2 separate regions of the Homo sapiens genome follow, and region 2 is linked to region 1. Evidence: fine-mapped expression QTL. Tissue or cell type: whole blood. Region 1 holds a variant in brackets; the other region holds the start of a gene. All regions are shown on one strand. Distances are from middle to middle.

What was found. PIP is the estimated chance that this variant, and not a neighbour inherited with it, causes the effect.
Region 2: it holds the start of DEF8, and the variant in region 1 is fine-mapped to the expression of DEF8 in whole blood (TOPMed, PIP above 0.99).

Annotation. Positions count from the first base shown.
Region 1 is chr16:89,968,949-89,977,048 of GRCh38, forward strand. It overlaps the pseudogene CENPBD1P and the pseudogene AFG3L1P. Among named protein-coding and RNA genes, the nearest start is that of SNORA119, 20 kb to the left of the region's middle. RefSeq lists enhancers at 3,310-3,369, 3,680-4,663 and a silencer at 3,510-3,989. The variant C/T (reference allele first, on the strand shown) is at 4,612.
Region 2 is chr16:89,944,671-89,952,770 of GRCh38, forward strand. DEF8 (differentially expressed in FDCP 8 homolog) reads left to right here and starts at 4,085. Exons shown (of 13, transcript NM_001242818.2): 1 at 4,085-4,144; 2 at 4,747-4,843. RefSeq lists enhancers at 154-203, 3,095-3,434 and a silencer at 4,115-4,214.

The DNA of each region.
Region 1 (8,100 bases):
TCTAGGTTTTAATGTCTGGAAGGGCTAGTCTCCCCTTTGCAATTTTTCTTTTCCTTTTTTTTTTTTTTTTGAGATGGAGTCTCGTTCTGTTGCCCAGGCTGGAGTGCAGTGGTGTGATCTCGGCTCACTGCAAGTTCTGCCTCCCAGGTTCATGCCATTCTTCTGCCTCAGCCTCTGAGTAGCTGGGACTACAGGCGCCTGCCACCATGCCCGGCTAATTTTTTTTGTATTTTTTAGTAGAGACGTGTTTCACCTCGTTAGCCAGGACGGTCTTGATCTCCTGACCTCATGATCTGCCTGCCTTGACCTCCCAAAGTGCTGGGACTACAGGTGTGAGCCACCGTGCCTGGCCATTTTTTTGTATATTTTTAGTAGAGATGGGGTTTCACCATGTTAGCCAGGATGGTCTTGATCTCCTGACCTTGTGATCCTCCTGCCTCAGCCTCCCAAAGTGCTGGTATTACAGGCGTGAGCCACCGTGCCCGGCCTCAATTTTTCTTTTTTAAAAAACGTCTTCTGCTGGGCATGGTGGTTCACACTTTTAATCCCTGCACTTTTGGAGGTCCAGGCTAGAGGATCATTTGAGCCCGGGAGTTCCAGACCAGCCTGGGCAACACACAGACTCCTTCTCTACCAAAATAATTAGCTGGTGGTGGTGGCATGTGCCTGTAGTCCCAACACTCCAGAGGCTGAGGTATGAGGATTGCTTGAACTTTGGAGGTCGAGGCTACAGTGAACCAAGATTGTGCCACTGCACTCCAGCTTCGATGATGGAGCGAGACCGTCTCAAAGAAAAAAAGTTTTCCTGGCGATTCTTACACATATATGAGCTTTTAAAAGCATATATTTAAATAACATTTTAATGACAAAATTTGATGCTCTCAAGTATCAAAATGGAAATACCAACAGCAAGGTTTCCAGGGATGTCCAACACCACAGAGCAGGGAGGCCTGGCTGGGCCTCCACTGTTGAGGTCATCATGGTGCTTCCGCTTTATTCTGATTAACTTTTGGTTACACACATTGAAAAATGACCTAAGAGAGTTGTTTTGAGTGGCGCTTTTTCTCATTGTACAGCTCCTGCTAGCAGTTTACTGCAACACTGATTTCTCTGGAACCTCTCAGTTTCCAGTCATCATTAGGGCTGTTACTAGCAAGGACCTACAAGCCAGCCTCAAAATGTGAGAGGGCTGCCGACAGTCTTCCTGTGGTTAGCTGCCACAGTGCCCAGGGACCATCTTCCCTCTCCTCCTCCCCCACTGCCAGCTCCTGTTCCAGCCGCATCAGTTCCTCATTTGAGAGATCTTCTTCATGGGACTGCAGCAACTGGTCCACAGCAGCCTCAGCAACCTCTTCAAAGGCCACATTTCTGGCAAGGGTCACAATGTTTTTTTGAAGCTGTGCAATGTTATCTGCCTGGGAAAAACGCTGGGCCTGAACACACTCAGGCCAAATCTTCTTCCACATGCTGTTCATTAGTGCTGGTTTGAGCTCCTCCCATGCGATGGCCATGTCCACAGCATCCATGATGCTGTAGTTTCTCCAAAATTCCCTGATCATAGCTGTGTCCTCACCATCCGCTGCTTCTAGGATGTGCTGAAAAGTCCTTCTCAGATAATGAGCTTTCAAGGTCGAGATTACACCTTGACACGTGGTCCGGATTGAGTCAGCTGTACTGTCATGAAGGTATTATACTCTTGTACTTCTTTTTTTTCTTTTTTTTTTTTGAGACGGAGTTTCACTCCTGTTGTCCAGGATGGAGTGCAATGGCGCGATCTCGGCTCACCACAACCTCCGCCTCCCAGGTTCAAGCAATTCTCCTGCTTTAGCCTCCCGAGTAGCTGGGATTACAGGCCTGCACCACCACGCCCGGCTAAATTTGTATTTTTAATAGAGACGGGGTTTCTCCATGTTGAGGCTGGTCTCGAACTCCTGACCTCAGGTGATCCGCCCGTCTCGGCCTCCCAAAGTGCTGGGATTACAGGCGTGAGCCACCGCGCCTGGCCTGAAGGTATTCTACTCTTAGTTATCAGAAAGGTCGCTCAAATTTACAGAGTGGCATGACGCACTGTCTAGTATGAGCAGTGCTTTGTTGGTGAGATTATTTTGGGCACTGTATTTTTCAACGGCAAAAAAAGTAAGTGAACCATTCATGAAAGATGCTCCTGGTCACCCAAGCCTTTCTGTTGGAGCGCCAAATCACGGGCAAACTGGGCTTCAAGAACCCTTCAGAGCCTTGCGGGTTTCTGAGCGGTACACCAGTAAGGGCTTCAACTTAAAGTCCCCAGCTGCACTGCCACCAAGCAGCAGCATCAAGCGATCTTTGGATGACTTAAACCCTGGCTCAGCATTCTCTTCCTCGGAAATAAACGTTCCTTTGGGCATTCTCTTCCAATCAAGTCTCGTCTCATCTACGTTAAAGACACCTGGGGGGTGTACTCACCTTCTTCGATGATGCTTTTCAGCATTTCTGTGTACATGTCCTTGTTGCTGGGAGCTGCGCTGTTCATCTTGAAGTGGGGCAAACAGTGGCACTCCTTGAATCTCACAAGCCACCCTTGACTTGCATGAAACCTCTCCGTTTGAGAACCTTCGCCATGTTCACGCTGTAAGTCATCAAACTCAGCCTTCTCCTGAACGATGGCGGCGCTCAAGGTCGCATTTGGCTGGCTCTGGTCTTCCAGCCACAAGCTCAGCAGCTGCTCCATGCTCTCCATCACTGCACTTCGATGGCGAGTCAACCGAGAGGCTCTCAGAGGAGTAGCTATTTGTGAACTCGCTTTGATTTTTTCTTTACTATCTCGAATGGTCGCCACTGTAGAGATAGCAAGATCTAAGGCCTTTGCGATCTGACTGAGCTTCTCACCCGCTTCAAATCGTCGTAACACTTCCAATTTGAGGTCAAGGGTAATCGCTTTCCGTTCCCTTTTGGCACTAGGGATGACAGTTGCATCTGTGGGCCTTTCCCCAGGCATTTCTGCCTCCAAAATGTCAGAAAATCACAGCGGTCTCAAGCGCAAGAACGCTGTGGTTCCTCTACGTCCCCTTGCAGAACTCGGTCAACAGAAAACGAGGCTGCGAAGAGGCTCAGGCTGATGTCCTGGAGACGTGGACGGGTCCCCATGGGCAGGCCCAGCCCCACTGCCTAGCCCAGCTGCTGCTTCACTGTCCACTCCGAGGAGGCCGCGCGGGTCTCCCGGTACCGCTCGAAGTCCGCGTGTTGGGGCCGTGCGGCCGCAGGCACATACAAGCGGCCTGGGTCCTGGGGCTCCAGAGAACAACCGACCAAGCAGACAAACGGAACTCCGTGAGGGGGACACTGCGGCAGAAACGTCCAGGGGCGGTTTTCCAGTGCAGCGGAGGGCGGACCGGGCGGGTGTTGTTTCGGGAGCTGCTTTCCATGGAGGACCCCAGAAATAAGTGTTGATGCCGATGCCCGATTTAAGATAAGTCTAAAGGCGCTGGCTATCCCCTTAGGGCCCAGCTGTCTGGGCAGGGCGAGGCTGCGCTGGCGATCAAACCCTCGAACGGTCAGGCGACGGCGTGGACACCCAAGACGGGGCCCCAGCCGGCGCCGCGCCCCTGCCGCGCCTGCGCGAGTCCTCCCTGCGCTCGCGGGGCCCTAGGACCGCTCTCCCATTGCGCATGCGCGCGCCCGGGCGGCGCGGGATCTGGGTCTGGGGATGTGGTACCGGCTGCTGGCGGCGGCCGGCAGTAGAGCGGTGGCCAGGCCGCTGGCCTTGCTGTGGCGATGTGGTGGCCCAGGAGGCGGCAGGACGGCCAAGACCAGCGCGAGGGCCCTGGGCAAGGCCCGACAGGTGAGCGGGGAGGCGCTCTCCGCCGGTGCCGGGCGGCTGGTCTGCTCTGGACGCCGCGTGACGCCATTCGCCTGCGCCGGCCGCGGGGGAGCGCGGGAGGGCGGCGGCCCTGACCTGGTCCGCGCAGTGAGGCCGACAGCACCTGGCCAGAGCTTCCCGCCCCCCCGCCTCCTCCGTCTCCAAACTCCTGCTCTTCTCCTCGCTACCTCTTCCACCCACTTCTTGCGGAATTCCCGCTGTTTACTGGATGCCCGGTCCCCTCGGACATCGGAACCGGGACCTCCAGCCTCCTTGCTCGGCTTTGTAAAGCGCCGGGCGTTGAGCGATTTGCGCTTGAGTCCCACCTCCTCGCGAACCAGCTTTGTGGCCCCGCGTGCCAGCCCGTGTCCTCCTGGGCTCGGCGGCGTTCGGCTTTATCCACCTCGCAGTTACTCAGTGAACCAGACACGATAAGAGGCGTGAAAGGGTTTTGCAAACTGTTCTTTATACAGCGACCAGTCACTGTCGTTAACAGCTAATGCTGAGAGCTAAGGGCTTTACGCGGATTATCTAAGTCTTATACCCGCCCTATAGGTAGATATCGCTATAACCCTATTGTTATTTATTATATTATTTTTAAAAATTTGGGAGCGGGGCCGGAGTCTCGCTGTGTTGTCTAGGCTGATCTCGAACTCATGGGCACAAGCGATTCTCCTTTCTCAACCTCTGGAGTAGCTGGGACTACAGGCTTGAGCCACCGTGCCCTGCTCATAACCCTGTTTTATAGGGTTAGGGTCTAAGACCGGAATATTCTG[C/T]ATTTTAAGATTGCTTTATTTTTGTATTGATACATCCCAGTGAGCAGCAGTAACGTTGAATTGTTTTTCTAATGCAGAGTTTTTGAATTTTGATCCCAGAAAGCTGTCATGGTTTTCAGACAGCAGTAAAATAAGAAGAAGGATCCCATGAGTATTTCTGTCCTGTCTTCAGGAATGAACTCCCCCCCCCCCCCGCCATCTCCATTCATTTGGGAAAGTGTATGATGGTTTAGTTGCTAGCAATATGAGTGAAAGCAGTCTTTCAGCTTTGGCCATGTGGCATCAGCATTGCAGAGGTCCTCCTGGTTGCTAACACATATTGAAAGTCAGCGATATGCAATATCGGTGTGTACAGCCTAATATAGCCCAGGAGAGTTTTGAATCATTGAACTGCTATAGACCCCTTTATGAAGGGAGGACGGACGTTGAATGATCTTTGAGTTCCTTCCCGGACTGGATCATTCATCTGCTTCTCATTTATTAGAGATAGATCTGTTAATCATTTACCAGGGAATATCTTGGTGAACACGACAGGCAAGGGCTCTGCCCCACTGGCTTGCTCTCTTTTGAGAGCTTTATGACTTGTGGACTGAGGGTGACATGCAGAGGTTGGAGAGGTGGCAGCAATTTGCATTTTTTTTTTTTTTTTGAGACGGAGTTTCCCTCTTGCCCATGCTGGAGTGCAATGGCGCAATCTTGGCTCACTGCAACCTCCGGCTCCCAGGTTCAAAGCGATTCTCCTGCCTCAGCCTCCCGAGAAGCTGGGATTACAGGCGCATACCACCATTCCCGGCTAATTTTGTATTTTTAGTAGAGACGGCTGGGCACGATGGCTCACGCCTGTAATCCCAGCACTTTGGGAGGCTGAGGCGGGCAGATCACCTAAGGTGGGGAGTTCGAGACCAGCCTGACTGATGTGGAGAAACCCCGTCTCTACTAAAATACAAAATTAGCCCGGTGTGGTGGCACGCACCTGTAATCCCAGCTACTTGGGAGGCTGAGGCAGGAGAATCGCTTAGAACCTGGGAGGCGGAGGTGGCAGTGAGCCAAGGTCGCACCATTGCACTCCAGCCTGGGAGTGAGACTCTGTCTCAAAAAAAAAAAAAAAGAAACAAAACAAAAAACACCCTAACAGCTCTCCTCATGGAAGCTTATGCTGTGGAGGCTTCCATGCAGTCATCTTTCATTCATTGAGCTACCTACTCTGTCCTTGTTCTCGTAGAGTTTACGTGCTGTGCAAGGAGGAACCAGACAATGGATAAGCAAGTATTAGGCATGTTAGGAAAAGGAAGCAGAATAAAGGAAATAGAAAATGAAGAAAGGGAATGGAGGAGGGATAAACCCTGTTATTTGTTGTGTCCCCTGCAGGAAGTGAGGGATTGAGATGAGCTTGCTAGGAAGATGGAATAGAAAATGCACTGCCCTAGGGTGGGTCCAGCCTTGAGTTCTGTGTGATCAGTATGAGGAAGAGGTTAGTGATAGACAGGTCAAGGAGGGGCAGGGCCTCATAGGCCTGCTGACGTTGCACCTGTGTGCTGTGTGTGTCTGTGGGACCCGGAATAAGGGTCAACTCATTTATGGCCTGACTGGAAAGAGGACAGCAGCACTTGGCCCTGTTTAAGGGAGTTTGTGTTTTGCCTACCTTCACATCTTGGCTTTACATATACAAAAACTAATTTAGCAAGGTTATTTACTGTGAGCTGTGAACTGACTTGCAGAAAACTCCAAGAAGGAATGGTAAACTCCTATCTTAGTGTTTACATTTACTGTGAGAACTGCATCAGGCTTAACCAGATTGTCTCCTAACCAAATCACAAAAGGACTAAATTGCGAATTAAAGCAAAGGAATTGGATGTTTTATCAAGTTTTGGAAGCCTGAAGAGTCATACTTTGTACCTTCAGGGCTGTAGGCTACCTGGTATCTACCCAGCCACCAGTACCAGTGCCACACTGTCTTTGAGGTGGTCCTGGGGTAGTCATGGAAAAGCTCTGGAAGATTGGGGCATCAGAATTCTCATTGCACACTTTCAGCTACCAGCTGTCTTCAGGCACTCACATTACCTCTCAGGTTCTACTTTCTCAGATGGGCAATGGGGATCAAGTGAGGTAAGAGGCACCTGGCACCCTACAACGTGCAGTATGGCCACCTTCTGTTGTTTGTGTAGGTCTCCTGTTGACCCACACCTTGGGTTCCAAACCCCCATCGGGGAAACATTCATGGGATCCTTCGAGAGTCATTGCTAGCTCTGTGTCAGGTACTGTGTGCCATTGGTGCTGGGATGGCTGCTGCAGATCGATTTCGTTCACGATGTGGAATCGTTTGTTAGCCCCACAGCCTTTACTGTCAGCATTCTCTTTCTGAGCTGCTTTTTTTTTTTTTTATGATTTTAATAATTTTTTCATAGTATGTCTTACTTTTTAGTCTACTGTGGTCTTTTATAGGGATATTTGAATAATGTAGTTAATTAGAAAGTTACTAATTGGGGAATGATTTTACTTTGGGGTAGTAGCCTACAGAGTCAGCCTCCCCCTGAATGTTGACACAGCTGAAATAACATAGGTGTTGTCAACTGTGGGTCTTGTTTCATTATAATAAAATATTGGGGGCTCACACCTGTCATCCCAGCACTTTGGGAGGCTGAGACAGGTGGATCACCTGAGGTCAGGAGTTCAAGACCAGCCTGACCAATATGGTGAAACTCTGTCTCTAATAAAAATACAAAAATTAGCCAGTGTGGTGGTGTGCACCTGTAATCCCAGCTACTTGGGAGGCTGAGATAGGGAGAATTGCTTGAACCCAGGAGGCGGAGGTTGCAGTGAGCTGAGATGGCGCCACTGTACTCCGGCCTGGGTGACAGAGCAAGACTCTGTCTCAAAAAAATAAAATAAAATATTGGGGACAATATAAATTCACTGGTTATGTTGGGATTTTGTTGGATACAGTTAGTACTGGGTTATTGAGTGCTTAGATTTTGTTTTTTAATATTTGTGTATGTGTGTGGTTTTTTTTTTTTTTTTTTTTTTTGAGAGAGTCTTACTGTCGCTAGGCTGGAGTGCAGTGGCACGATCTTGGCTCAATACAACTTTCGCCTCCCAGGTTCAAGCAATTCTCCTGACTCAGCCTCCCGAGTAATTGGGATTACAGGCGCCCACCTCCATGCCCGGCTAATTTTTGTATTTTTAGTACAGACGGGGTTTCACCATGTTAGCCAGGCTGGTCTCGAACTCCTGACCTCAAGTGATCCTCCCGCCTCGGCCTCCCAAAGTGCTGAGATTACAGGCATGAGCCACAGCACCTGGCCGACGTTTTCCTCCTTGAAGACTGAAGAAAATACAGAGCTTCTGGAAAAATTATTTGTTTTCTTGGCCTGACAAAAACTTTTACCTCTTGCTGGATGCTGTATTACCTGTCTGTTGTCCCTGCTGTGAATAGCCACTGCACTCCAATGAGACCCCATCTTGAAAAAAAAAAAAAAAGGCTGGGCTCAT
Region 2 (8,100 bases), 24 kb before region 1:
GCGTGTGTGTGTAGCCCCGGCTACTAGGGAGGCTGAGGCAGGAGGATCCCTTGAGTCCAAGAGGTTGAGGCTGCAGTGAGCCGAGATTGTGCCACTGCACTCCAGCCTGGGCGACAGAGTGAGACCCTGTTTAAAAAAAAAAAAATGCTGAAAGAAATTTCCAATGGCTTCCATCTTACCACAAATCAAAGCCAATGTGTTTACCATTAGCTCATAGCCTCCCGTCTCTGGTCCTCTCCCCTCACTTTACCTCATACTAAACTCCAGCCACATGGACCTGCTTCCAGTTCCTCATTCATAGGAGGCTCTTTCGGTTCCTCAAGGACCTTGCACTCATGGTTTCTACCTGGATGCCCCTCCCACTCTTCAGTGGTTCTCTCCTTCTGACCCCTGAGTCTTGGCTCAAGCATCTTCCTCCCCTGATCTCAGTCACCGTCTCGTCAAACTGTTTATTTCCTTGTGCTCATCACATCTCTGATTAGTTTGCATCTTTGCTTGTCTGGTTCCTTGAGTGATGGGACCTTGTCTGTTTTCTCACCACAGTGTCCTAGTGCTTTGAGCAGAGCATGGCATATAGTTGGTGCTCAATAAATTTGTTTGTGGTGGCTCATGCCTGAAATCCTAGAATTTTGGGAGGCTGAGGTGGGCAGATCACTTGAGCTCAGGAGTTGGAGACCAGCCTGGGCAACATGGCAAGACCCTGTCTCTATAAAAAATACAAAAATTAGCTGGGCATGGTGGTGCATGCCTGTGGTCCCAGGTACTTGGCCTGAGGCGGGAGGATCATTTGAGCCCAGGAGATGGAGGCCAGTCTGGGCAACCCCATCTGAAAGAAAAGAAAACAAAATAGTAAATGTTCTAAACCAGTATATAAATTATCTGTAACTGCAGATTCTCCCAGGACTCTGGGAGGCTAAGCCTGGGTGATCACTTGAACCCAGCCATTCGGGGCTGCAGGGAGCTGTGCTCATGCCGCTGTGCTTTAGCCAGACTGAGATCTTGTCTCTTAATAAAAAATAAGAATAAAATGGGGCCGGGCGTGGTAGCTCACGCCTGCAATCCCAGCACTCTGTGAGGCTGAGGTGGGTGGATCACTTGAGTCCAGGATTCCAAGACCACCCTGGGCAATGTGGCAAATGTCTCTACAAAAAACACAAACAAAATTAGCCAGGTGGCGGCGCTTGCCTGTGATCCTGGCTACTCAGGAGGCTGAACTGGTAGAACCACTTGAGCCTGGGAGGTGGAGGTTGCAGTGAGGTGAGACTGAGCCGCTGCACTCCAGCGTGGGTGACAGAGTGAGACCCTGTCCCAAAATAAATAAAAATTTAAAAATTAAAAAAATGTGTTGTTGAATGTCTACAGAGGAATAGAGATGGTCATGACACACTCTATGTTTATTTACTTATTTATTTATTTTTAGAGACAGGGTCTTGCTCTGTCACCCAAGCTGGAGTGCAGCGGGTCACTGCAGCCTCAAATTCCTGGGCTCAAGCAATCCTCCCACCTCGGCCTCTCAAGGTGCTGGGATTCCAGCCATGAGCCACCGCGCCTGGCCAACACATTCTGATTAAGAAAGTAGACCTTAAACTGCGTGTAGAGTGTGGGTTTATCTTTGTCTCTCCTTGGAGGAGGGTTCCCATTGCTTCTGTAGACACTGGTTCAGATCCACAACCGGTTCTAACATGCATTTGGGCAGTGGGCCACCTGCTGGGAGGAACCTCCTTCCTCTCAGGGCCAGCCTCAACCGGGGACCCATTCCTTTCTCAGTCCATGCAAGGAAGCACCCTCTGTGTCCAGGCACTGGCCATTAAGCAGCAAAGAAGGCCAACAAAATGCTGCCTACGGCTCTTTGCTTCTGGTGGTTGGGGCTGGGGGGCAGAAATAATAAAGAAAAATGTGCAAAACCGAAGACATCAGACAGTGACGAGTGATTAGGGAGAAGGTGAGTGAGTGAGGGGAAGGGCCCTGCCTCCCAGAGATCACTGAGGACTGCTGAGCAGAGGCAAGGAGGAGGTGTTGGGGTTACTGGGGAGGACTGCTCCACAGAGGCTCAGCCAGGCAGGGGCCCCGGTGGGGGTGGGCCTGGCTTGTTGGGGAGACGAGCCAGGAGGTGAAGGTGGGGGTGGGGGTGGGCCTGGCCTGTTGGGGAGAGGAGCCAGGAGGTGAAGGTGGGGGCCGACTTCTTCCCAGGGTCCCTCTCACTGCCAGGCTGAGGATGTACTGTGGGGCCCAGGTGGGAGCTGAGATGGGGAAGGCCTTTCCAGAAGGAGGAGCTGGGAGAGAGGCCAGGTGGACGTGGAATCTCTAGGACTGGGGACCTTGAAGCAGCAGATAGAGCGGCGGCTCAGGGCAGTCTCCCTCCAGGTCTGAGTGCATGGAGGGACACGGCGTCCGAAGCCACCCTAAGCTGGGGTGGAATCTCACTGCACCCTTTCTGAGCGATGTGGCCTTGGGGGGGCCGATGGAGTTGCCTGTCCTGTAGGTGACTGCTGGCCCCCAGGCTTCCGTAGGGTTAAATGAGATGGTGTTGGCAACACGCCCCCCAAAACCTGGCCATAAACTGGTCCCAAAACTGGCCATAAACAAAATCTCTGCAGCACTGTGACATGTTCATGACGGCCATGACGCCCACGCTGGAAGGTCGTGGGTTTACCAGAATGAGGGCAAGGAACACCTGGCCCACCCAGGGCGGAAAACTGCTTAAAGGCATTCTTAAGCCACAAACAATAGCGTGAGCGATCTGTGCCTTAAGGACATGCTCCTGCTGCAGGTAACTAGCCAGACCCATCCCTTTATCTTGGCCCATCCCTTCGTTTCCCATAAGGGATACTTTTAGTTAGTCTAATATCTACAGAAACAATGCTTATCACTGGTTTGCCGTTAATAAATACGTGGGTAAGTCTCTGTTCGAGGCTGTCAGCTCTGAAGGCTGTGAGACCCCTGATTTCCCACTCCACACCTCTCTATCTCTGTGTGTGTGTGTCTTTAGTTCCTCTAGCGCTGCCGGGTTAGGGTCTCCCCGACCGAGCTGGTCTCTGCAAGGTGGTGTGTGGCTCCCACTTGGGAGGCCTCCAGTTACTGGCACTGTCATCACCATGCCCACTGAACAAAGTGGACCAAGCCCCAGAGGCAGCCAAAACCACACCTTTCTGCAGGGAGGGTAAACTGAGCCCGCGAGCTCAGGGCAAGCGCACCAGGCGCATATGCTGGCCTTCATCTGTCCTCAGCTCCTCCCTGCGGGCACAAGCGGGGGCAGCTGAATCTTCCACGCGAGAAGCCTAAGAGTAGGGATACGGGGGCGGGGAGCAGCAGGCCTGCTCTGTGTGTAAACAACGGGAAAGCAGGAATAACGCCAGGGCCCGCGGACACCAGCTGCCTCCGAAGTCCCGCTGCCCGGCGCCTGCATGGAGCAGCCTCCTGAGCGCAGTGTGGCGCGTCCTCCTGTGTAAAGAGGGTAGAGCCGCGCCGGGTCCCTCCCTCTGCAGCCGTGAAGCCCCCGCGGGGCCCTGCAGGTGGCTGGCGGCACCTGCACACGGTGGTTCTCTGTTCCTTTTTCCTCCTCAACCACTGAGGTTAAAAAAAGTGTTAAAAGCCACCCTTTTTGTTTTTTTGAGACGGAGTCTCGCTCTGTCGCCCAGGCTGGAGTGCAGTGGTGCGATCTCGGCTCACTCCGAGCTCCGCCTCCCGGGTTCACGCCGTTCTCCCGCCTCAGCCTCCCGCGTAGCTGGGACTACAGGCGCCCGCCACCGCGCCCGGCTAATTTTTCGTATTTTTAGTGGAGACGGGGTTTCACCGTGTTAGCCAGGATGGTCTCGATCTCCTGACCTCGCGATCCGCCCGCCTCGGCCTCCCGAAGCGCTGGGATGACAGGCGTGAGCCGCCGCGCCCGCCCATTTTTTTTAAACGTGTTGGGGTTTGGGTTTCAGCCACAGGCCTTCTGCGATGAGAGGAAACCCAGGACGCGCAGCCCCAGGTCAGGCCCGCGGAACAGCCGGGCGGACTCCGGGGCTCGCAGACTCGCGACCCGCGTGCCATGAACCTCCGCGCCGGAGGCGGCAGCAGCGAGCGCGGGGCTGGATCCAGCGTAGCGGGGCGGCCGGGCGGATCCAGCGCAGCCGGGAGACAGATGCGAGGCGGCGGTCAGGTGAGCGGCGCGGGGCCGGCGGGGTCGGGGCCGGCGGGGACGGGGCCGGCGGGGACGGGGCCGGCGGGGACGGGGTCGGCGGGGTCGGGGCTGGGAGGGACGGGGCCGGCGGGGACGGGGTCGGCGGGGACGGGGCTGGGAGGGACGGGGCCGGCGGGGACGGGGCCGGCGGGGACGGGGCCGGCGGGGTCGGGGCTGGGAGGGACGGGGCCGGCGGGGACGGGGTCGGCGGGGTCGGGGCTGGGAGGGACGGGGCCGGCGGGGACGGGGCCGGCGGGGACGGGGCCGGCGAGGTCGGGGCCGGCGGGGACGGGGCTGGGAGGGCGGCCCGCCCGGCGCAGGGGCCTCGAGACCTCGGCCGCCCCACCCCGGGGACGCCGCCGCTGCTCCGGCGTCCACACCAGCTGCGTGCGGAGCACCCGGGCGGCTCAGGGGACCCGCGTGGCCGTGCCCCCGCCCTGGGCTGCTCCGAGCCTCAGTTTCCCCCTCGGTGGAACGGGTGGGTGGGAGAGACCTGCCCCCGAGGAGCCCGGGAGACCGGGCGAGCTCCCGCGGGTGTGGTGGGTGGGGAGGCACAGTGCTGGGGTGGCTTCTCCCTGCAGCAGGTGCCGAACCCACGGCCAGGCTTCCGTGGCCAGCAGCCCTAGAGGAATGGCCATCCTGTCCCTGCGAGCCCCTGGGCCCTGGCAGGCGATGCAGGTATGGGCAGACAGGACGCTGTTGACTCCGCACACCGGGGTGACTTCTCAGGTTCTCGGGGTGGCAGCTGCAGTGATGACACCGCTTCCTGGTGGTCACGCCGCGGGCAGGACGCGGGAGGCCAGGTCCGTGCATCCCGCGTGTCCTGAGCTTCGGCCCAGGGTCCCTCCGTGCCCCGGAACCCCGCCGGCTTTCTTCGGCTTCCTTTCATTGCTAAGTTGTGGGGTCCTCCCCGATGAGAGCAGTGGGCTCTAGAGGAGGGGCAGGGGGTGGCCAGACCTCTTGCTTTCACTCTTCCACTTCCTGCCCGCTCCTTTCTGAGGCCAAGTCCCACATCTGGGTGCAGAACTGGTGGGGTGAGCCTGGTGAGAGGGGCAGGCTGGCGTTCTGCTCAGAGTCGGCCACTGTGGCCGGCATCCCCAGGTCTGTGTGAGCAGAAGCTAAGGCTGCGAGGCCAGCGGCCTCCCCTCATTCATCCCCTGCCCGTGCGCCAGGCCTGGGGCTGGCACTGACTGTCAGTAAATAGGCAAATAAAAGATGCCTTTTTTCACAGCCCGGAGGAGAGCTGGTAGCCTAGAGTACAGCTGCTGGGCAGAACGGAGGTGTCCCTGCCAGCGTGCCTTCCTTGACGCTCCTCTGGCCATGTTTTAAACACCAGGAGGTTTCCAGCGGCTTCCCCAGGCGTAGCTCCTGCACCTTTTTCCTGGGCTGGTCACCATATGTGATGACAGTGCCAGTCTGTTCTGAGCAGCTCTGGGCTCCTGGCTTCACTGACATCATAAACAAGTCCTTAGCCCTTCCATCCACCCCAGAAAGTAGGTGTTCCCCCTGATTTATAGGCAAGACAATGGAGAACCAGAGTCTAAATCAGGGCTGATTTTTTTTTTTTTTTTGAGATGGAGTTTTGCTGTGTTGCCTAGGCTGGAGTGCAGTGGCACAATCTCGGCTCACTGCAACCTCCACCTCCCGTGTTCAAGTGATTCTCCTGCCTCAGCTTCCCAAGTAGCTGGATTACAGGCATGCACCACCATGCCCAGCTAATTTGTTTGTGTTTTTAGTACAGACGGGGTTTCACCATGTTGGTCAGGCTGGTTTGAACTCTTGACCTCAAATGATCCACCCGCCTCAGCCTCCCAAAGTGAGCCACCACACACCGGCCATGATTCTTAAAAATAACAGTAATAGGCCAGGCATGGTAGCTCACACCTATAATCCCAGCAATTTGGGAGGCAGAGGCAGGAGGGTTGCTTGAAGCCAGGAGTTTGAGACCAGCCTGGGCATCAGAGTGAGACTCCGTCTCTACAAAAAGTTAAAAAAAATTAGCTGAGTGTGGTGGCACACACTGGAGTTCCAGCTACTTGGGAGGCTAATATGGGAGGACCCCTTCAGCCCAGGAGTTTGAGGCTGCAGTGAGCTGTGATCGCACCACTGCACTCCAGCTCGGGTGACAGAGCAACACCCTGTCTCAAAAAAAAGTAATAATGATAAATTATAATCAATATTTATTGGGTGCTTACTATGTGCCGGCCAGTGTTCTCTGAACTTAGTATTAACTACTTTAATCTTGACAATAACCCTGTATGGTACTATTGTAATCCCCATTTGAGACATGGGAGAATGGAGGCAGAGAAACGTTTATCCACTTACCCAAGGTCACACAGCTAGGAGCTAGCAGAGTTGGGATTCAAGCTGGACGTGTCTGTCTTGTTACCATGAAACTATTGGGATCATCAGTCAGAATCTTTTCTTTTTTTTTTTTCTGAGATGGAGTCTCACTCTGTCACCCAAGCTGGAGTGCAGTGGCTCAATCTCGGCTCACCTCCTGGGTTCAAGCGATTCTCCTGCCTCAGCCTCCCAAGTAGCTGGGATTACAGATGCCCACCACCACGCCCGGCTAATTTTTGTATTTTTGGTAGAGACGGGGTTTCACCAGGTTGGCCAGGCTGGTCTCGAACTGCTCACCTCAGGTGATCAGCCCACTTCTGCTTCCCAAAGTGCTGGGATTACAGGCGTGAGCCACCGAGCTGGGTCTTTCAGTCAGAATCTACTTTGGCCGCAAGAGACAAAAACCTCCCCTATAACACTGGTGGGAATATCGTATTTCTCTCACTTGAATGAAGTCTGGCTGTGAGCAGCTTAGGGCTCAGGTGCAGTCCCCTGCAATCACGTCACTCTCCCCAGTGTGGCTATTCCAGCTGCAGCCTTTACATCTGCATTCCAGGCAGCAGGAGGCAGGGATGGCTGAAGAGGGGCAGCCCCTACCTTTAAGGACAATTCTCAGAAGTCTTTTCTTTTTTCTCATATGTATGTATACACACACACACATATATATGTATATACACACACATACATATTTATGTAAAAAAGATTTTTTTTTTTTTTGATATGGAGTCTCGCTCTGTTGCCCAGGCTGGAGTGCAGTGGTGCGTTCTCGGCTCACTGCAAGCTCCGCTTCCTGGGTTCACGCTATTCTGCTGCCTCAGCCTCCCGAGTAGCTGGGGCTACAGGCGCCTGCCACCACACCTGGCTAATTTTTTGTATTTCTAGTAGAGACAGGGTTTCAATGTGTTAGCCAGGATGGTTTCGATCTCCTGACCTGGTGATCCGCCCGCCTCGGCCTCCCAATGTGCTGGGATTACAGGCGTGAGCCACGGCGCCCAGCCCATATTTGTATAAAATTTAATAGAGATAGGGCCTCATTGCATTGGGCCTGGCCGGATGCCGTCCTCCTGCCTTGGCCTTCCAGAGTGCTGGGATTATAGGTGTGAGCTACCACGCCCGGCCCATTACTGTTGTTTTCAGATAGCCCTGATTTAGTCTCTGGTTCTCCCTTTTCTTGCCTATAAATCAGGGAGAACACGTACTTCCTGGGGTGGATGGAAGGGCTAAGCACTTGGGTATGTCAGTGAAGCCAGGAGCCCAGAGCTGCTCAGATCTGCCTGATCTTCTCAAGCCGAGGGGGTCAGAACAGTCACTTTACCAGGTCTAGCTGCTGGGGAGGCTGGGAAATTATGTGACAAACAAAAATGAGGCTCCTCATTCAGGAAGAAGGAGGAGTGATGTTGGGATGGCCTGATTTCTCCTGTGTCCTGGGTGCTCCCTGGGAGACTGGGGAGGTGCTGGCATCGGGTGGCCGCCTCTGACTCTGTGACCCACCCACAGTCATCAGGTAATAAGAGAAGGAGGTGGGACTGGGGCCCACTCACGTTCCCTGTGTCTTCCCCGTGCCTCCCTGTTGGGGTCCACGGGCAGCCTGT